2 separate regions of the Homo sapiens genome follow, and region 2 is linked to region 1. The links come from fine-mapping of genetic effects on gene expression. Tissue or cell type: testis. Region 1 holds a variant in brackets; the other region holds the start of a gene. All regions are shown on one strand. Distances are from middle to middle.

Region 1 (2,760 bases):
GGCCCTCTTCCTGGTTTGCAGATGGCTACCTTCTCACTGTGTCCTCACACAATGGAGAAAGGGAGTATGTTTTGGTCTCTTCCTCTTCTGATAAGGGCACTAACCTCATCATGAGGGTCCCATCCTCCTGGTGTCATCTAAACCTAATTACCTCCCAATGGCCCCGCCTTCAAATACCATCACGTTGAAGGTTGCTTCCTTCCTGGTCGTTTGCTCTGGTGAGACCAAATGACCTGCAAAGTGTCACTTGATTCCATTCTCTCCATCCCTTCCATCCCAGGCAATCTTTATCTAGCTACACCAACCTGTGCCCCAGGGGCTTCAAGAGTTGTTGTTGTTTTAACATTAAAAAACCAGAAAGTTCACTTGTTTCTTAGTGTTTACATCCTTGCTATAACAATTCTAGTTTTCCTTTAGGCAATGCTGATCACTGGGAAGGAGGTGGATCAATTCTCCTATGGGACCAACAGTTTTCTGGGAAGAAACTTCCTGATACCTCAGCCTAGGAATCTCCCTATCCCTGGAGAGTCCAGGAATCTATATTAAAACATGAAACAAAGCAAAAAATAAAAAAAAACCTCCTTAGTAATTGTTTTCTTTTTGAGACAGGGTCTCACTCTGTTGTCGAGGCTGGGGTGCAGTGGCACAATCTTGGCTCACTGCAGCCTCCGCCTCCCATGTTCAAGTGATTCTCCTGCCTCAGTCTCCCAAGTAGCTGGGACTACCAAGTGTGCACCACTATTCCCGGCTAATTTTTCTATTTTTAGTAGAGATGGGGTTTCATCATGTCCACCAGGCTGGTCTTGAACTCCTGGCCTCAAGCAATCCGCCCACCTTGGCCTCCCAAAGTGCTAGGATTACAGATGTGAGCCACTGTGCCTGGCCTTCCTTAGTAATTTGAACGTTGAACTAAGTTTAGCAACCACTGAACAAGTTAACTATAGCCATATATCACCTGATGACGGGGGTAACGATGGGGAAATTGTTAGGTAATTTCAACATTGTGCGAATATCACGGAGTGTGCTCACACAAACCTAGATGGTATAGCCTACTACACACCTGGGCTATATGGTGTAGCCTATTGCTCCTAGGCTACAAACCTGTATAGCAAGTTACTGTGCCGAACACTGCAGTCAGTTGTAACACAATGGTAATTGTGTATCTAAACATATTAGAAAAGGTACAGTAAAAATACAGTATTACAATCACACAGGACCACCATAGCACATGAGGTCCATCGTTGACTGAAACGTGGTGTGGCACATGACTGTATTGTAATGGTCTCCTAACTGGTCTCACTGCCATCCATTTTGGACCCTCCCCCTGCCCACCCCACCTCTCTGCTGCTTGGCTATACACTGCTGCCAGAATGATCTTTCTAAAATGAAAAACTAATTGGGCCATCCCTCTGGTCAAAATCTTTCTTCAATTTCTGGAGGGTAAAAGCTAAAATCCTTATCTTAGCATGATTTGACCCATGGTTAATTTTCCGTCTTATTTTCCCACAGCTTCCCCATTCATTACCTCGTGC[A/G]ACCTATCCTCACCAGCACCATAATATCAACCATTGGTGGAGCTCCTTGAGCTCAGCACTATACTAGCTCCTTTGTGCTATCTCACTTATTCCTCCCAAGAGCTCTGTGAAGCTTACTGGCACTGTATTACAGATGATGAAGGTGAAGTGAGCAGTTACATCCTTGGCCAGTTGGAAGGAGGTGGATGAATTCCCCTATGTGATCAACAGTTTTCTGGGAGGAAACTTCCTGATACCTCAACCTAGGAATCTCTCTATCCCTGGAGAGTCCAGAAATCTATATTAAAATGTGAAACAAAGCAAAAAAACAAACAAACCTCCCTTAGTAATTTTTTTTTGTTTTTGAGACAGGGTCTTGCTCTGTCGCCCAGGCTGGAGTGCAGTAGCGCAATCTCAGCTCACTGCAACCTGCTCACTGCAACCTATTTAGCTGGCAAATAACATCTGGATCTATCTGACACCAGAGCCTGAGCTTTTCCTTTGCTACACTGTCTTATAACTTTGCCCATAACTCCAAGTTCCCTGAAGGCCCCCCACTCCGCTAATGCCCTCATACTGCTGTGTATTCATAAATCCTTGCTTCGAGCACCCTCCTTGCTTCAGTCTGCCTGGCAGATACCTACCTATCCTTTTGGTCTCATCGCACACATTAATGAGGTAAAATCCAATCTATGCCACTATATGATTTGGGGCAAGTTACTTAACATCTGAGACCTTCAATTTCCACATCTGTACAATGAGAATAATTTCAATCTCATAGGGTTTGTTGTGGACAATTGCCGTCTTTGCTGCCCAGAATTTACTATGCTTTGGCAACATTGCCTTAATTTTGCTTGGGGAGCCAGCCCTCCTCCACCTCTGCCCATGTACTTCCGGTGACAGTGATGGCCCTGGAGGGAGCACAGGGCCTGAGCTCAGACACTCAGCACTCTTCCTCCTCCTCACCATGGTGTCTGACCCATGGATGAGCCACAGGAAAAGAAGCTCAATTCCTAGGCTCTTGTTTTGAACTCTCACGTAAGCAGACTCACTCATTTCTACTGGATTTGGTCCTAAGTTGCTAAAGTTTGGGGAAAATTGGGTTACATATAGCTTATGTGATTAACTCCATAAATGAATATGCAACAGAATTTAACCTGGAAGGAAAAAGCCCAGGAGTTGTTGCTGGCAGCTCTCTTGTAACCATGAGGGGAGAGCTTGTTGGAGAAGAGTTAACACTCAGCAAGCA
Region 2 (2,622 bases), 57 kb before region 1:
TTTCAATTGTTAGGGTTTTCTTTTACAATTTAAAAATAATTTATTCATTTATAGTCAGGGACTAGGTCTGTTGCTCAGGCTAGAATGCAGGGGTGCAATCATAGCTCACTGCAGCTTTGAACTCCTAGTTTCAAGACATCCTCCTGCCTTGACTTCCCAAAGTGCTAGGAATACAGGTGTGAGCCACCGTGCCCAGACTATTTTATGTATTTTCAAATTTTATTTTTATTTTTATGTCTTTTTAAGAGATGGGGTCTCGCTATGTTGCCCAAGCTGGCCTCAAACTCTTGGGGCTAAGCAATTTTCCCACCTCAGCCTGCCAAGTAGCTGGGACTATAGGCATGCTGTTCCATCATCCTGGTTTTTTAAAAATTTAATTTGTTAATATTATTAATATAGTGTTATTCCAGAGCCAAAACTACAGGAGGCACATCAAGAGAGGACTCAGTTTTCCATTCTTGTCTCCTCCACGATGTTCCTTCTCCTATACAAGTTTTCTAATTTGTTTTTGGTTTATCCATTTAGTGTTTCTTTTTATAAATATTAGCAAACACAAGTATCTTTATATCCCCCCCCCACACCCTTTCTTTCATCCATTTTAATGGTAAATAGTCTATTGGTGAATATTGCCGTTTGAGAATGACTTTTTTTTTTTTAAACCATAATGATGGGCAATAGTTCAGAACTACTGAAGTCTGGCTGGAGAGATGAGGAACATTACTTTTTAATACTGCTTGAAAAGAGAACACTTTTTTTCTGGAAGCCCATTTTTCTAAAAGAAACAATAATTTTTTTTTCCTTCATTTTCTCCGCGCCTCTCTAATCTGCCAGGAAATAATTCAACGCAATTCGGGCTGAAGCGTGTGCCTCGCCGCCTGCGGTTGGGTCATGGCCCCTTCTGAGACTGCTCGGAAGTGGGAGAGGATGCTTGCCCTTACGGGTGTTCTGCCCCTGAGACTGGCGCCCCTTGGTGCTCCCTCTGTTCCCTCCCAGATCTTGGGAGAAGCACGGACATCTCTGTTTCTGCTTTTGGTCCCCGAACGCAGTTACGCGCCCACTGGCTCCCTGTCTCTGGCGCTTCTGGGCACGGGGGAGCTGGGGCGGCCCCGCCTGCGCACGGCGGTGCCGGGATTGGGGGCGGGCACGCCGCCTCCGTCTCCCACGCGCTCGCTCGCTCGCTCGCTCCCGCCCTCCCCGCCTCGAGCGATCTCCTGCCTCAGCCTTGCAGGCTCCGCACTGCAGATGCCTGCTGGCTTCCCTGCGCTCGGCGGCTCCCGCGGTGCCCCGTAAGTCCCCGTGACCCTCCAGCACCAGCCGGCTGTGCGCTCCCTGCTCCCACGGGCCGGTCAGCCGCAGACACTCACCCAGCTCCGCGAGCTCAGCCGCTCAGCGAGTGGGGTAGCGGGGACCGAGACGGACGGTAGCCGTGCCAGAGCCCGGGGCGCTCTCGGATGCGGCAGGACAAGCTGACCGGGTCTCTGAGGCGCGGGGGGAGATGCCTGAAGCGGCAGGGCGGCGGCGTGGGCACCATCCTGAGCAATGTGCTCAAGAAGCGCAGCTGCATTTCCCGGACCGCGCCCCGGCTGCTGTGCACCCTGGAGCCGGGTGAGGACCCCAGGGCTGCAGATGGGGCGCTGTAAAGTAGCGCCGGGGCTGCCCGCGCTTCTGCCTTAGCCTGACTCCGTCTAGGCCGGGGAGCTCTGGGGAAAGTCCGCGTGCCACCTGGTGCGGGGCACCGCGTTGGCACCTGCAGGGAGCGATTGGTCTGGAAGGGTAGAGGGCAGACGGGGGCCTGGGTGGGGCAGCGGCCACCCCAGGCGCGGAGAACCCGCTGCTTCCACCCTCTCCCCGCGGACCCCCACCCTGCGGCCTGTGTGCTCGGCTTTCTCCGCGTGGCGGGGAAGTGCGGGTGGCTGCCCGGGCCCTCAGAGGCCGCACCACCTATTGTGTTCCAGGCTCGCAGGAAGCCAGACCTTGCGAGAGGTGTGTGGGGGCGGAGAGTGGCACAGGTTTGACACTGCAGGTCGGAGGAGGAAGACAGTGGCTGCAAAGGCAAAATCGGGTGTTATTTTCCCAAGAGTCCCTTCAGCGTGAGTGCCGGGGTCAGCTCGAACTGGAGCCTGTAATTTGTGAGTGCGAGTGGGGAGCAGCAGGAGATCCTTTTCATAGGTGAGGTCCAGGAACGAGCCTGGTCGTGCTAGGCAAGGCCCTTCCCACTGTCAGCCTGTGTTTACCCATCCCTGCTTCTCCAGACTGCATAACTCCGTGTCGGCTCCATCACCCGGCATCCCTCCCCGGGATTTTAAGAGCCTGGCCCTAGCGCGGGCTCCTGGGCACGGAGGTTTCTGGCAAGGAGTGGCTGCAGAGGGAGTTGGCTGTACTCTCACTGGTGCTTGGCGCTCACCTGTTCCCTGGAGTGGCACCGGCTGCGTTCCAGGCGGGTTCACGGTCCCCGGCCCCCGCCCCCCAGCGCCAGCGCCTTGGGGACCTGCTGTAGAGCCGCAGGAGAATCGAGCTGCAGAGTCCCAAAGGGTGGGATGCGGCACTGCCTTTCCCAACCTCGTGGTTTCTTTGTTGTTCTCCCCTAGGAAGTGTCTAGTTGCAGAGGCTGTAGTATTTATT

The links. PIP is the estimated chance that this variant, and not a neighbour inherited with it, causes the effect.
Region 2: it holds the start of TBC1D30, and the variant in region 1 is fine-mapped to the expression of TBC1D30 in testis (GTEx, PIP 0.93).

Annotation. Positions count from the first base shown.
Region 1 is chr12:64,880,456-64,883,215 of GRCh38, forward strand. It overlaps TBC1D30 (TBC1 domain family member 30), which reads left to right. Exons shown (of 12, transcript NM_015279.2): 12 at 1-578. Among named protein-coding and RNA genes, the nearest start is that of LINC02389, 1.9 kb to the right of the region's middle. The variant A/G (reference allele first, on the strand shown) is at 1,533.
Region 2 is chr12:64,823,429-64,826,050 of GRCh38, forward strand. TBC1D30 (TBC1 domain family member 30) reads left to right here and starts at 1,219. Exons shown (of 12, transcript NM_015279.2): 1 at 1,219-1,605. The coding sequence starts at 1,452. RefSeq lists a silencer at 1,039-1,278 and an enhancer at 1,917-2,424.